Linked DNA regions of Homo sapiens: region 1 is linked to region 2. A link means that fine-mapping ties the variant in region 2 to the expression of a gene that starts in the linked region. Tissue or cell type: spinal cord. Region 2 holds a variant in brackets; the other region holds the start of a gene. All regions are shown on one strand. Distances are from middle to middle.

The links. PIP is the estimated chance that this variant, and not a neighbour inherited with it, causes the effect.
Region 1: AATF starts here. The variant in region 2 is fine-mapped to the expression of AATF in spinal cord (GTEx, PIP above 0.99). The same link has a PIP of 0.9 or more in amygdala, hippocampus and substantia nigra.

Annotation. Positions count from the first base shown.
Region 1 is chr17:36,945,086-36,953,191 of GRCh38, reverse strand. AATF (apoptosis antagonizing transcription factor) reads right to left here and starts at 4,238. Exons shown (of 12, transcript NM_012138.4): 1 at 3,976-4,238; 2 at 2,787-2,978; 3 at 1-306. The coding sequence starts at 4,066.
Region 2 is chr17:37,073,304-37,081,409 of GRCh38, reverse strand. No RefSeq gene overlaps it. Among named protein-coding and RNA genes, the nearest start is that of MIR2909, 44 kb to the right of the region's middle. The variant G/A (reference allele first, on the strand shown) is at 3,559.

The DNA.
Region 1 (8,106 bases), 130 kb after region 2:
TGTCTTCCTCACTCTCGCCTTGGGAGTCTTCCGCGTCATCCCCTTCTTCCATGCCACTCTCTTCGTCTTCCTCCTCCTCACTGCTCCCAAGGTCATCCATTCCCTTGGTAAATTTCTCAAAGTCACTGATACTCTGGACACTGAAGCCCGGTGTTTTTGCAGAGTGGCTTCTGCTCTTCTTGCTCTCCCTGTGATCACCACACTCCTGTTCCTCAGCAGCACCCAGGTCGTCCTCATCATATTCCTCCAGACCCAGTCCCTCTGAATCTTCATCTCCAGACCCTTCCTCATCAGATATTTCCTCATCTACAAAGAAGAGAGGGAAGAAAGAGAAAAATGGGTATTACCTGGAGAAAATACCAAGCCATAGACTTCATTTCAACTTAAGCACTGTGGCATCAGGGGGAAAATCTCTTACTGCACTCAATTCAACAATATATTTATTACACATCTACAATCTCCAAAATGCTAAGGGAGAAGCAAAGATGAATAGAACACGGGTCCTACCCTAACAAAAGGAGCTAGTGGGAAAGACAGACTCACAACATTACAACTCAAGGAAGCATCAGAAGTGCTTTGACAAAATTTCAATAACCCAGAAGAGTGAGAAATTTTAACTGTGGGGCAAGTGAATTTAAGCTAATCTCTAAGGAAGAGCTAGCATTTGCTCTGGCCCTTGAAGAACAGTAAGATTTCAACTGGTGTTAGAGAATTACCAGTTTTCCCAAACCTGATCTGAAAAAATGTACAATCTATCACATCCGTCTGCCCTATTTACTAAATACTTATTAAGCACTCATTATGAGCCAGGGGCTAAGGAAAGGCAAATAGAATTTAATACTTGCTGGGAGGAGTTCATGGTCTGGTGGGAGTGGTAGATATGCATGCCAATAATTATATTACAAGGTCATTAGTACACAGTGTATGGAGATGGAACCACCTAACTCTCCTGGAAAGGTGGGGGATGGTATCATGTGGAGAAGGAGACATTATAATTTTACTTATGAAGCATAAGGCAACAGCTCATAGATAATGAAGGGAAAACGCACTGGAGTGCAGGATGCACAAGGAAGTGATGGGAGATGAGACTAATCAGGAAAGGTCTCGTCTTTCATGAGGACTCTGAACTTGATCCTATAGTAGACAGAGTGCTAGTTAAGGCTCTTTGTTTGACTTATGCTTAGAGTATCATCTGATATGTAGAGGTTTTTACAGTTTATCCAATCTGTTCCATGGTAGAACATAAAAGCCCCATGTGTTTCAAGTATGATTCTAAGATAGAGGGACCAGTTTCCAAAAACTTTCTTCAATAAAATAAAGATTTTAGGAAAGCGTGACAGGTCTTCAGCGCTTCTTTAAAAAGGTATATATAAACTTAAGACACAAAGCTGCCAAAAATATAAATACAAAAACTAAGTGCCAAAACAGTAAACAGAAATTATTATTTAAATTCTTTGAATGTACGCCATTTCTCAGATTAAGAAACATTCATACAGAGTTTACTAGAGTGTACATCTTGGAGTCAGACAGCCTACATTTGAATCATGTTTCTTCCACTTACTAACTATATGACCTTGAGCAAACTTATGTAACCAATTTGCCCCTCGATTTCCTTATCTGTAAAATGGGGCTAAGTAGTAATAACTTCCTGCGCAATTGGGAGGATTAAATTAGGTGACACATGTAGTGATAATGGTGATAATTTTTTATAAAAATCTGTCTAATTCCAGGTAATTTTATAATTTTTTTTTTGAGGACTTACTGTGTCCCAGGCTCTTAGAACTTAAATTATAGAGCTAAACTCAGTGCCTGACGCATGGTAAGAACTCAATAAATATTATCATATTTGTCTCATGATTGGTCCCTTTATCAGTCTCTAGGCAAAGAATATGAAATGAGCTTATCAGGAGCTCCCAGAACTACATCAAGGACTAAATCATAGATATCATAACCTAAATGATAGTTCCTTTTATATTATCTGTGGATTCTCAACATGACACCCCTGACCTTTCTAAAGGAAAACAAATGACATTCTCCCAATAATCACCATATCTAGCCCCTTCTTCCACTCTGAGAAATTTACAATTCTTTAAAACTATAAGCGCACAGACTCCTAACTCTTTTGCAGGGAAGAGAAGGATTATGTGATTTTTTAGAATGGCAAAAAATGAGTTTCACAAATAACTAATATCACACAGTGCTTCAATGCAAGTCCTGGAAAACCAAAGGTCAGGGGTCACAATTCAAGGATAACATGTTCATCAGACACAGTGGTTTTTCAGCTCATAACCCTCTCCAGTAGCCAAAATGCACTGCCTTCTCTGTCACTCCACTGTAGGGTGAGCCATTAGTCCGAACATAAGGAGTATAGCAACTTAATCACTCTGGGCTTTAGATTCCTTATGAAGTGAAATGAAGTAACCTCTAAGACCCTTTCTAATACCAAATCAATGGTCTCTCCTAAGATAACAGATAGGGGTGCCTGACCAACATGGACAAACCCCGTCTCTACTAAAAATACAAAATTAGCCGGGCGTGGTGGTGCATGCCTGTAATCCCAGCTACTCGGGAGGCTGAGGCAGGAGCCTCGCTTGAACTCCAGAGGTGGAGGTTGCGGTGAGCCGAGATGGCGCCATCACACTCCAGCCTGGGCAACAAGAGCCAAACTCTGTCTCAAAAAAAAGATCCGCAGACTACTCTTGCAAAGATCATGGGGGATGACCGGAGGATTTTAACCCTGAAAAAATTAGGGAAGAGAAGAGTTCCATTCAAAAATGTCTACTCACCAGACGATCCTGGCAGAGTCTGCTCCCAATGGTCTTCATTCCATGCTTTTCTAGAGGTGGTTTTGCCGCAATACCTTTTGTCCGTGTCCAAGAGGGAGGCTGATGCCAGTTTTCTAATGCTACCCACTACTAGGAAATCACCTTCCCCATCTTCCCCTTCATCAAACCTGTCAATCACCCTGGCAGCAGTGGCTGTCGGGGGAGAGGGAAAAGTAAACAGAATCTCCAGGTTAGCAGAAACTTTAACGGGAACCCTGGTCGACCCATTTATCTCATAGTTGAACGTCCTTTACGAAATCCCCACCAACTTCCAGGAATAGGAAATTCACTCTCTCCCAAAGTAGAACACTGTCTTACTGCTGTTTCTAAACAGAAAGTTGACTCCTGGCATCTACTAGTGGGATCTATTTCTATGACTTGGATCCTATCAAACTAGTTGAATTCCTCTTCAATGTGTGACAGTCGCTCCAATATCTTAAATCAGTCATCACGTTCTCCCCTCACTCTGTCCCATTCTTTGGGGAGTTTTCTTTGCTTATTCTGGCTAAACAGTCCCGAGTTTCTTCAACTGATCTTCCTAAGATACGGTTCAGCACTCGCATTTATCCCTCCTTATTATCCCTTTCTCACACTTCCGACTCAAGTCTAAAGCGGGATTACTCCCAGCTAGACTCTGAACATCAGCTTACAGAACAGGAGTCTCAGTCGTCAGCCACTGAACAAGTGTCTTGAGACTTCAAGAGACTTAAACAGCACCAGAAAATCCTTCCATCAGTCTCCAACTTAGTTTTGAAGGGCAACCTGAATTAAAAACATGCGACTTTCTTCTCCTCCTTTCTAACGCAATACCAGAAAGGGCATCCTCAAAGCTAACTTCCAACTTGCTAGCAGACTCTCTGGCTCCCTCCAACAGGCCTGGAGCAAGTAAACCTGAAGACCAGCTCCTCTCGGCCTGAGCCCTCGATCTGTTCCGCCCATCCAGCCGAGCACCAAGTTTCGAGTGCGTGTGAAAAGAAGCCGAAGCCCTCCTCCCGAGGCCGGGACCACCCTCGCGGGAGGCGACGTTCCTCTGCGCCAAGCGAAGGAGCGCAGGCCCGGCGGCCTCGCGCACGCCCCTCCCACGCCGCCCCCTTGCCCCACAGGGCCTGGCCCACCGCTCCGCACGTGGCCTGCCCCAGTCCGGCCTCACCTTCCTCGGGGTCCGCTTCAGGGTCCGCCTCGCTTGGTCGCGGGTTCAACAACTGTTCCAGTTGCAGCGCCAGGGGCTGCGGCCCCGCCATCGTCACCAGCTCCCGGTCCACTCCGCTTCGCGCACGTAAATGTGCGGCCCAACCCCCGGCCCCGAAGCTCCTTCCCTGCCGGATCCTCTCGCCTTGATCCGATTCCCCGACTCCGCCAGAGACCGCGCGGAGGCCACCCCACAGCTCTGGACCGGCCACTTCCGGGAGGCGCGCGGGAGGGGGCGGGGCCTGCGCGTCACTGCGGGCGTTGCTAGCATGAAGGCGGAAGCGCGCAGAAGGTTGAAGGGATTGGAGCCGTATGGGCGCGTGTGCGCGTGCGCGTGCGAGTGCGCGGGAAGGGGCGGTGCGGAAGCGCGCCAAGGCACGTGACCGCTTCTGTCGCTGAGATGCGATTGCGATGCGCGCGGCCAGTGTCCCCTTGTACAAAATATGCCTCGAGATTTGTGCGAGATTCGCTTAGGAATAAAGCATAGCGTAGCCGTGGCCCACGGTGGCTGATTTGGGAAGGAGGAGGGAGTAGGGCTTAAGCTGCTCGAATCGCGGGTGCGCACTCGGGCACGCAGAGACTGGGACCCAAAGCAGGTTTGTCATTTCGCAATTTATAGTAGTCTGAGGCCGGGCACACGCCTCCCGCCCTTCAGCGGCCAGGATTTGGGAATCCTATGTCAGGGATATGCACGTGTAAGTGTGTGGCGGACTGCTGGCGTCTTTCTTAATGGGAATACTTAGGAATCGCTGTGGCTAAAGATAGTTTCAGTAGCGTCTCTAAGTACCCTTGCCTGAGCAAGGGAAAGGGGGTGGGGTGTGGATTACTCCACTGCATACCCCTCGGTATTGATTATCTTTGCTGTTCAGAGATGAGGGCATGCTCAGGCAGCTTAAGCAGGTGCACAAATGCAGAAAAATACAGGTCTACCGTTAGAGGGACAGACTCAAAATATAAAGACTTAATAGTATAAATGTAATTGCACCCCGCACACGGAAAGACACAATCGCTTTACATCCTCTTTCCTTCATCAAGCATTCCCTGACTGCCCACTATGTGGCAGGCACTGCTAGATAAGATACAAGATAAGTAAGTTGGATTCTCCCCCCCACGGTAATCAGCCTAGGAGGGTAGACAAACATGTAAACAGAAACTGCAATAAGGGATGATAAGTGTGACTACAAAGTGGTCTATTCTTATGGTATCTGTTGGAGGTTGCCTGTAGAGACCTAGACCCCTCTAAACAGAATCTGCCTCAAAAGGATCCAGAAAAGAGATGTTAGTGGTGCACTGTGGCAGTGCCCCTTGGGTACAGCCCGGGCCAGTTGGATCCCACAGCTGAACAACTGGGGAACCCTCAGCTCTCTACTGTCTCCCATGAAAACCAAGGGAAGAGAGGATCTCTGACTTTCACAATCTTCATATGTCCTCAGGGCCAAGAGCAATAAGAGGACACCACTTTAGTGGAGCCTGTTCCATGTCCCTGTAAAGTGGCCCTTGAAGAATGAAGACAACCAGGGCTGCAGAGGGGAAGGAGAACCTGTCTGAGGGTAAACCCCCTCAGACATGGAAGGAAAAGAATGCCAGGCTAGGCAGGGCACTCAGGAGAAGAAAACGGCTTTTTACCATCCATAAGAGAGCTTAGCCTAAGAGAACAGTTTTTCGTTTATCCTCTATAATTGCAGTCTTGTGCCTGTGTCCGGGCCTCCCAAGCAAAAGTGTGTTCCTTGCTCCTTGACAAGGTGCCATGGGGCTTCAAAGGACAAAAATGTTTCTCCCACCCCACATTTAAGAAACTACCTCCTGCAATCCTATCCCCTTGCTATGTTGGGTACTTACAATGCTTAGAAACCTGGCCTTTGAGGTAAAGAGAAGGAAGAAAAGAGAAAGGGAGGTGAGTCACTGCAGAGACCACCTCTAAGCTGTCATGCAAACAGGACACTGCTGGTCAATTTGGGGGCTGTGCTGGGCAAACACTCAGCAGAAAATGCCATAGACCTGTTTACTTACTCTCCCTTCTCTGTCCTGGTCCCTACTGACTTGGGAAGCCATTTTAGCAAGGAATCAAGACCGTTCTACTGTCACACACATCCCAGGGCCCCCCAAAATGTTTGCCTGACCTTATACTGAAGGTAGAAAGAGGACTCCAGGAGTGGAGGGAAGAGGAAGTAATTCTAGGAATTAAGATGCAACTGAGAGTAGTTGAGGCAAGGGACAGGGGAGCAAATTCTCAAATACTCCCTCTGGGGGCCTCTCCCTACCTGCATTCCAGTGTCTTGAGATGGTGGGGGAAGGGCTTATTGATGGGGTAGGGATGGAGATGGAGAGTGGACTGTGGCGAGGAGTTTCAACCTCTGACTGATGTAGAGATGAGAGCAGATGAGAGGAACAGGGAGAGGAGAATAAGGGTGAGCAGTTCCCTAACAGAATGGCCTTCTCCAGAGAAGGCGGAGGGGCGCCCAGTCCACAATCCCTCTCCCTGCCCTCCAAGGGCTGCAAAGTGGCAGGCGATTAGGCACAGCAGAGGATGGGCAAGGGGTGACACTTTCCAATTGTCCCAAACAACTGTCTGCTCACTTGACAAGGAGTTTCAAGAGTTTGGGAAAACCAAGTTCCCACTTGCCTCTCTTCAGATGCTGTCCACCCTCAGGTGCCAGCCCTGGCAATGCCTATCCTGGCTCTCCACAGGTAATACTTCCCCAAGTGCCTCACCTAGAGCAGCTTACCAGCGGCAGCCAGCCCGGAGAAGTTGGGTGGGTGAGCTTCAGCTCCCTCGCCAGAGCAGATGGTGGCTCCCTGCTGCTGGAACCCTGAAGGCAGGTGGCGAGAGGCACAGAGGTGGTGGCTTTAAGATGGCCACAGGGAGAAACCAGGCTGCCCTCCCAGGCGAGAGGGGACTGCAGTGGCGCTTCCCTCCTGCTGCGCCTCCTGCGGGAGCTCCGCCTAGGTATGGTGCCGCACGTCCCCGCACCTCGGGGCCAGAGGTGGGCGGCACAGCACTGATGGGAAGGAGAACAGGCCCTGACATTTCCAGGCCTCCTCCTTGGGGCCTTCGGCTCCAAATTTGACTGCTGAGCGTTGCCACCTGTTCGGGTTTTCGCCAGGATTCTGAATCCCGCGACGAGGGGAGAGACTGCGCCACAACCACGTTGTTAGAAGAATCGAATCCACATCGTGTGCCCAACTCGAAAACGCTTCTTATCAAATACCCCGATTGCACAATAAAGCTGCTAAATAATTCAGCAGCCTTGATAGGAAAATGCAGCTTCCCAGTGAGCGCAGTTCATTTAAATGAATGTCTTTAAAGGGGGCTAGGGAGTAGAGGCTATAATGAATAAGTTAGCTAGGATTTAATGTGTATAAATGCTAAAAAGGTAAAAACAAGCCGATCCAGTGATTGCATATAAAGCAAATAAAGAAATGTGCTGCATGCAGAGGCTGGGAGTTTCAAAAGTCTCCTCTGTATTTCATACATTTTTATTTCTGAAAGAACACTGCCAGATTCCTCCCGGATAGCCTCCTCCCCCATTAGATAAGCCATCATATGGATGCAGTGAAATATTGCTTATTTTAAAGCCTTCTCTGCAGGAAAGATAAACTTGGCTGTGTCTTAACAAAATTTGAAAACAGCACTGGAAATTATATACCATTTAATGTCAAACCTTTGACTTTTTAAATAAGGAAATAAATAATCCAGAGTGAAATCTAGGTGATATGGAAAAGAAATCCTGGAACTCTAATAGCATCTGATACTGAAACACACACACATCCACAAGAATATTTCATAGTAGATAAAATATTCAAATTTCTTCCAAGTCTAATGAAGGACTGGAAAGAATCGAGCTACTTTTAGAACCTTTTGAGTTGAAATTTGATTTTGATATTAGTTATTTTTGTTCATCTTTCAGAGAAACTTAATATGTATCTTGTGCCAGGCAAAATAGTTTTCCTTCTGGGGAACTTCAAAGGTAACAAATACTATAAAACAACAATTTCATATCAGTTCTGTGAAAGGGATTAAAGTATTTCATTTCTAGCTGTACTATACATTCATTTTACATTATCTTTCAAACCACCAAATTAGAAAGCCTTT
Region 2 (8,106 bases):
GTAAAAGCCAGGGCAGATTTCAAAACTGCTGAAATGTTTTAATATGTAGCCCCCACGCGCGCGTGCATACACACACACACACACACCAACTTATCAGCAGAAGATAGATGCCTTGCTGGCTCAAGATACATCTGCCTAAAGCATTGGCTGACCATTAGGCACAAGGGTGGCCCCTATGAAGCTAGGCTTAAAAAATAAGAAGTTTTAAAAAGAAAAACTGAGCAGAGGCTCGGTGTGGTGGCTCAATTCCTGCACTTGGGGAGGCTGAGGCGGGTGGATCACTTGAGGTCAGGAGTTTGAGACCAGCCTGGCCAACATGGTGAAACCGTCTCTACTAAAAATAAATTAGCTGGGTGTGGTGGTGTGCGCCTGTAATCCCAGCTGCTTGGGAGGCTAAGGCAGGAGAATCGCTTGAACCCGGGAGGTAGAGGTTGCAGTGAGCCAAGATCGTGCCACTGCACTCCAGCCTGGGTGACAGAATGAGATTCTGTCTCAAAAAACAAACAAATAAAAACAACTGGGCAGAAACTTAAACACACATACACACACACACATTTACAGAATTAAAGGGTCAGGTAGGACAACCTTGGGCCCTTATTTAAAAAAAAAAAAAAAAAAAAAGAATTGGCCAGGCATGGTGGCTCACACCTATGATCCCCAGCAATTTGGGAGGCCAGGGTGGGCGGTTCGCTTGAGTCCAAGAGTTTAAGACCAGCCTGGACAACATGACAAAACTCCATCTCTACAAAAAATGCAAAAAAAAAAAAAAACTAGCCAGGTGTGGTGGCACACGCTTGTCGTCCCAGCAACTTGGGAGGCTGAGGTGGAAGGATGACCTGAGCCCAGGCAGGTAGAGGCTGCAGTGAACCATGATCACGCCACTGCACTCCAACCTGGGTGACAGAGCAAGACCCTGTCTCAAAACAAAACATAAAAAAGCACATTCTGAATAAAATTCTGAAACATGCTGCAACATGGATGAACTGTGAAGACATTATGCTAAGTGAAATAAGCCAGACACAAAAACAGATATTGTTTGATTCCACTTATATGTGGTATCTGAAATTATCAAATTCACAGAGACAGAAAATAAAACAGTGATTACCAGGGGTTGTGGGGAGAGGAATTTGGGGATTACTGTTTTCGTTTTTAGAGACAGGGTCTCGCTCTATTGCCCAGGCTGGAGTACAGTGGTATGATCATAGCTCACTACAGCCTCAAACTCCTGGGCTCAAGCAGTCCTCCCACCTCAGCCTCCTGAATAGCTGGGACTACAGGTGCAAGCCACTATACCCAGCTAATTTAAAAAAAAATTTTTTTTTTTTTTTTTTTTTTGTAGAGACAGGGCCTCACTGTGTTGCCCAAGCTGATCTTGAACTCCTGGGCTCAAGCGATCTTCCTTCTTCAGCCTCCCAAAGCACTGGAATTATAGGCATGAGCCACTGTAGCAGCTGGGAGTTATTGTTGTTGAATGAGTACAGAGTTTCAGTATGGGATGATGAAATGTTCTGGAGGTGGATGGTGGTGATGGTTGCACAACAATGTGAATGTCCTTAATGTCACTGAACTATACACTTAGAAACTGTTAAAATGGTAAATCATATATTTATCCCAGTTTTTGAAAAGGAAATTCTGAAAAGTTGACCAGAGGGACTACACAGATTTGGGAAGACAGAAGAATCAGTGCATGTGAAATCGTAGAGTAATAGAATTATCCAATGTGAAGAACAGAGAGGAAAAAAGAGTGAAAAATGAATAGACCCTCAGACTCCTGTGCAGCAACAGTGCGTTTACCAACATATGTGTACTGGGGGTGCCAGAAGAGAGAGAAATGGAAAAACTATCTGAAGAAATAGTGGCCGAAAAATTCCCAAATTTGATGGAAAACATGAATCTGCAGATCCAAGAAGCTCAATAAACCCCAAGTAGGATAAACAAAGATACTTACACCTAGATACCTCATGGCCAAACTGTTGAAAGACAAAGAAAAATCTTAAAGGAAGCTAGAGAAGAACAAGTTATCACTTACAGAAGAATAACAAAATAAATCACAGCTGCCTTCTAATCAGAAACAATGGACCCCAGGAGGCAGTGGGGCAGTATTGTCAGAGTGCCACAAGAAGAAAAAAAATGCTGTCAAACAAGAATCCTATATCCAGCAACACTGTCCTTAAAACAAGTACAGGTGAAATAAAGACACTCCACAAAAAAAGAGAATTCATTGTTAGCAGACCAGCTTTATAAGAAATACTAAAAGCAATAGTTGAGGCTGAAAAGAAATAATTCCAGATAGTAATTCAAATCTACTCAAAGAAATGAAAAGGTAAACAGTACCTAGGTAAATATAAAAAACTGTGTTCTCTTTAACTTCATTAAAAGACATAAAGTTGCATTAAACAATAAGTATACCACTGTATTTTGGGGTTTATAGCATATAGAACCGTAATATGTATGACAGTCACACAAAGAAGGGGGTAAAAATGAAACAACATGAAAACCAAGTCTATGTGTTGCCAGTATTAAGGTAATATTAATCTCAAGTATAGTGTTATATAACCTCTAGAACAACCACTAAGAAAGTAACTTTATTTATTTAGAGATGGAGTCTTGCTCTGTCATCCAGACTGGAGTGCAATGATGCAATCTCGGCTCATTGCAACCTCCGCGTCCCGGGTTCAAGCAGTTCTCCTGCCTCAGCCTCCTGAGTAGCTGGGATTATAGGCGCCCACCACCATGCCCGGCTAATTTTTGTATTTTTGGTAGAGACAGGGTCTCACCATGTTGGCCAGGCTGCTCTCAAACTCCTGACCTCAGGTGATGCACCTGCCTCGGCCTCCCAAAGTGCTGGGATTAGAGGCATGAGCCACCGCACCCAGCTGAAAATAACTTTAAAATGCATAGTAAGGCTGGCAGCAGTGGCTCACACCTCTAATCCCAGCACTTTGGGAGGCTGAGGTGGGAGGATCACATGAGTCCAGGAGTTTGAGACCAGGCTGGGCAATACAGTGAGACACTATCTCTACAAAAAATTTTTTTAAAATTGGCCAGGCATGGTGGCACATGCCTCTAGTTCCAGCTACTTGAGAGGCTGAGGCAGGAGGAGCACTGGCTCAGGAGGTTGAGGTTGCAGTGAGCTGAGATCGCACCACCGCACTCTAGCCTGGGCAACAGAGCAAGACCCTGTCTCAACAACAAAAGGCAAAGGGCTTAAACCCATTTTTTCAAAGATGATTTATGAATGGTCAAGAAGCATATAAAAACATGCTCAGCATCATTAATTGTTGGGGAAATGTATATTAAAACCGCAACGACACAACACTTCATACCCATTAGGACGTCTGCTATAAAAAACAAACAGAAAATAACATGTTGCAGACGATGTGGAAAAATTAGAACCCTTGTGCACTGTTGGCAGGAATAGAAAATGGTGTAGCTGCTATGCAAAAATGGTTCCTCAAAAAATTAAAAGTAGGGCCGGGTGTGGTGGCTCACACCTGTAATCCCAACACTTTGAGAGGCTAAGGTGCCCAGGAGTTCGAGACCAGCTTGGGCAACACA[G/A]TGAGACCCTCATCTGTATAAAAAATTAAAAAATAAAAAATTAGCTGGGTGATGGCACGTGGCTGTAGTCCCAGCTACTTGGGCAGCTGAGGTGAGAGGACTGCTTGAGTCTGGGCAACACAGCGAGACTGCCTCAAAAAAAAACAAAAACGAAACGAAAATGAAAAATAGGAGGCTGAGGTGGGAGGACTGCTTAAGCCCAGGAGTTTGAAGTTGCAGTGAGCTATGATCAAGCCACTACGCTCTAGCCTGGGCAACAGAGTGAGACCCTGTCTCAAAAAAAAAAAAAAAAAAAAAAAAAAAAGCACTACGTATGATCAAGCAATCTCACTTCTGGGCAGATATCCAAAAGAATTGAAAGCAGGGCCTTGAATATATATTTGCACACCCATGTTCACAGCAGCATTATTCACAATAGCCAAGAGGTGAAAGCCACCCAAATGTCCATCAAAGAATAAATTGATAAACAAAATGTGGTCTATACTTACAATGGAATATTACAACGGCCTTAAAAAGGAAAGCAATCCAATCACATGCTAGAACAGGAATAAACCTTGAGGACATTCTGTTAAGTGGAATAAGCCAGTTGCAAAAAGACAAATACTGTAGGATTCCACTTATATGAGGTATTTAAAGTAGTCGAATTTTGCTGGGTGCAGTGGCTCATGCCTGTAATCCCAGCACTTTGGGAGGCCAAGGTGGGTGGATCACTTGTGGTCAAGAGATTGAGACCAGCCTGGCCAACATGGTGAAACCCCATCTCTACTAAAAATACAAATGTTAGCTGAGCATGGTGGTGCATGCCTGTAATCCCAGCTACTCGGGAAGCTGAGGCAGGAGAATCGCTTGAACCCGGGACGTGGAGGTTGCAGTGAGCCGAGATCGCATCACCGCACTCCAGTCTGGTGACAGAAACTCTGTCTCAAAAAAATAAATAAATAAAAAATAAAGTAGTCAAATTCATAGAAACTGAAAGAATGGTGGTTGCCAGGGGTCGGAGTGAGGGGTAAACTGGGAATTGTTAAATGGGTATAAAGTTTCAGTTTTGTGGGGTAAGAATTTCTGGAAATCTGTTGCAGGACAATGTAAATATACTTAACACTATTGCATTGTACACTTAAACATGGTTAAGATGGTAAGTTTTATGTTTTCTTAGCCACAATTTAACATGTATGTATGTAAATATATATATATTAAAAACAACACTGGGGCTGGGTGTGGTGGCACACATCTGTAACCCCAGCATTCTTGAAGCCAGAAGTTTGAGACCAGCCTGAGCAACAAAGTGAGACCCAGTCTCCAGAAAAATTAAAAAAAAAAAAATAGCCAGGCGTGGTGGCATACACCTGTAGTCCCAGCTACTCAGGAGGATCTCTTGAGCCCAGGAGTTCAAGGCTGCAGTGAGCTGTAATCGCATCACTGCTCTCCAGCCTGCAGGATAGGGTAAGACCTTGTCTCTAAAAAACACAAAAGCAAGCAGTAAAGGAAAAACAAATGAACCTTATTAATAATTACATTAAATTTGAAAGGACTAAACACTCCAATCAAAAGATAGACTGTCAGATTAGGTGAAAAAATCTAGGCTGGGTGTGGTGGCTCTTGCCTGTAATCCCAGCACTTTGGGAGGCTGAGACAGGCAGATTGCTTGAGTCCAGGAGTTTGAGACCAGCCTGGGCAACATAGGGAGACCTCGTCTCTGCAAAAAATTAAAATACAAAAAATTAGCCAGGCATGGTGGCATGCACCTGTAGTCCCAGCTACTCGGGAGGCTGAGGAGGGACAATCACCCAAGCCCTGGAGGCTGAGGCTGCAGTGAGCCTAAATCACACCACTGCACTCTAGCCTGAGTGACAGAGTGAGACCCTGTCTCAAAAATAATAATTAAAATTTTAAAAAAACAAACAAAATGCCTGTTACTCCTGCCTCAGCCTCCCGAGTAGCTGGAACTACAGGTGTGTACCACCATACCTGGCTAATTTTTTTAATTTTGTGGAGGCTGGGTCTTAAGTCTTTAAGAAAAACACTTTAGATTCAAAGACACAAGTGGGTAAAGGTATAAAAACACCATCTACTATGCAAACAGTAACCATAAGGGTTGGAGTGGCTACATTAATATCAATATCAATATCTATATCTATCTATATGTATATATATAATGTCATTAGAGACAAAAATAAACATTTATTATGCTAAAAGAATCAGTTTGTCAGGAAGCTATAACAATTATAAATGTATACATGTTTAACAACAGAGCCCCAAAATACAGAAAGCAAAAATTGACAGAATAAAAAGGAGAAATAGACAACAGGTCTGGATCTGGATCAATAAACTTCCACCCCAAAAAAACAGAGAAGAAAAAAGAGGAGAATAAACTAAACCCAAAGCAAGAAGAATAAGGGAAAACATAAAGGTCAGAGTGGAAACTAGTGAAAGAGAAAACAGTAAACAACAGAGAAAAGTCAATAGAAACTTAAAGTTAGCTCTTTGAAAAAAATCAGGCTGGGCCCAGTGGCTCACACTTGTAATCCCAGCACTTTGGGAGGCCGAGGTGGGTGGATCACGAGGTCAAGAGATCGAGACCATCCTGGCCAACATGGTGAAACCCCGTCTCTACTAAAAATAGAAAAATTAGCTAGGCATGTTGGTGGGCGCCTGTAATCCCAGCTACTCGGGAGGCTAAGGCAGGAGAATCACTTGAACCCGGGAGGCGGAGGTTGCAATGAGCCGAGATCGCACCACTGTATTCCATCCAGCCTGGGGACAGAGTAAGACTCCATCTAAAAAAAAAAAAAAAAGAAAAGAAAAGAAAAAAACAATAAAATTGACAAGAAGAAAAAGAGAAACAACACAAATTTCCAAAATCAGGAATCAAAGAGGGGACATTGCTAGTGGCTCTACCAAAATTAAGATTATAAAGAAATATTATGAGCAACTTTATGCCAAGAAATTAGACTTAGGTAAAATGAACACATTCCTAGAAAGACCCAAATTTACCAAAACTGACTTGAGAAGAAACACACAATCCAAATAGACCTATAACAAATAAAGAAATTAGTCACTAAAAATCCTCCCACAGGCCAGGCACGGTGGTTCACACCTGTAATCCCAGCACATTGGGAGGCTGAGGTGGGGGAATCACCTGAGGTCAGGAGTTCAAGACCAGCCTGGCCAACATGGTGAATCCCCGTCTCTGCTAAAAATACAAAAATTAGCCAGGTGTGTTGGTGCACAACAGTAATCCCAGTTACTTGGGAGGCTCAGGCGGGAGAATGGCTTAAACCCGGGAGGCAGAGGTTGTGATGAGCCGAGATCATGCCACTGCAATCCAGCCTGGGCAAGAAAGTGAGACTCAGTCTTAAAAAAAAAAAAAAAATTCCCACAAAGTAAAGCCCCAGTCCCAGAAAGCTTCACTGGTAAATGCTCTGTCAAATATTTAAAGAAGAAATAACAGCCAGGTGCAGTGGCTCACGCCTGTAATCCCAGCACTTTGGGAGGCCAAGGAGGGCGGATCACGAGGTTAGGAGTTCGAGACCAGCCTGGCCAACAAGGGGAAACCCTGTCTCTACAAAAAATACAAAAATTAGCCGGGTGTGGTGGTGGGTGCCTGTAATCCCAGCTACTTGGGAGACTGAGGCAGGAGAATTGCTTGAACCCGGGAGGTGGAGGTTGTAGTGAGCTGAGATCACGCCACTGCACTCCAGCCTGGGTGACAGAGCAAGACTTCATCTTGAAAAAAAAAAAAAAAAAAAAGAAATAATACTGGTCCTTCTCAAACTCTCTTAGAAAACAGAAGGAACACTTTCCAACTCATTCTACAAGGCCAGTATTATCTGATACCAAAGCCAAAGACATCACAAGAAAACTACAGGCCAGTATCCCTTGTGAACACAGGATGCAAAAATCCTTAGCAAATATTAACTAACTGGGCCAGGTACAGTGGCGTGCATGTAGTCCCAGCTATTTGGGCAGCTGAGGCAGGAGGACTGTTTGAGCCCAGGATTTTGAGGCTGTAGTATGCCATGAGCATATCCTTAAATAGCCACTGCACCCCAGCCTGGGCAACGTGGCAAGACTCCATCTCTTTAAAAAAAGAATTAGCAAACTGAATACAGCAAGACACACCCACACTTTTTTTTTTTTTTTTTTGAGATGAGGTTCTCACTCTGTCATCCAGGCTGGAGTGCAGTGGCATGATCACAGCTCACTGCAACCTCCACCCCCAGGTTCAAACAATCCTCCCACTTAAGCCTCCCACCATCTGGGTGCGCACCACCACACCCAGCTAATTTTTGTATTTTTCAGTAGATATGGGGTTTCACCATGTTGGTCAGGCTGGTCTCGAACTCCTGACCTCAAGTGATCCACCCATCTTGGCCTCTCAAAGTGCTGGGATTATAGGCGTGAGCCACTGTGCCTATCCTAGCAATATATAAGTATATAAGTATATATATATTTATATTATATATAAATTTTATTTCTTCTAAAAAAAAAAAACAGGATACGTGTGCAGAATGTGCAGGTTTGTTACATAGGTATACCTGTGCCATG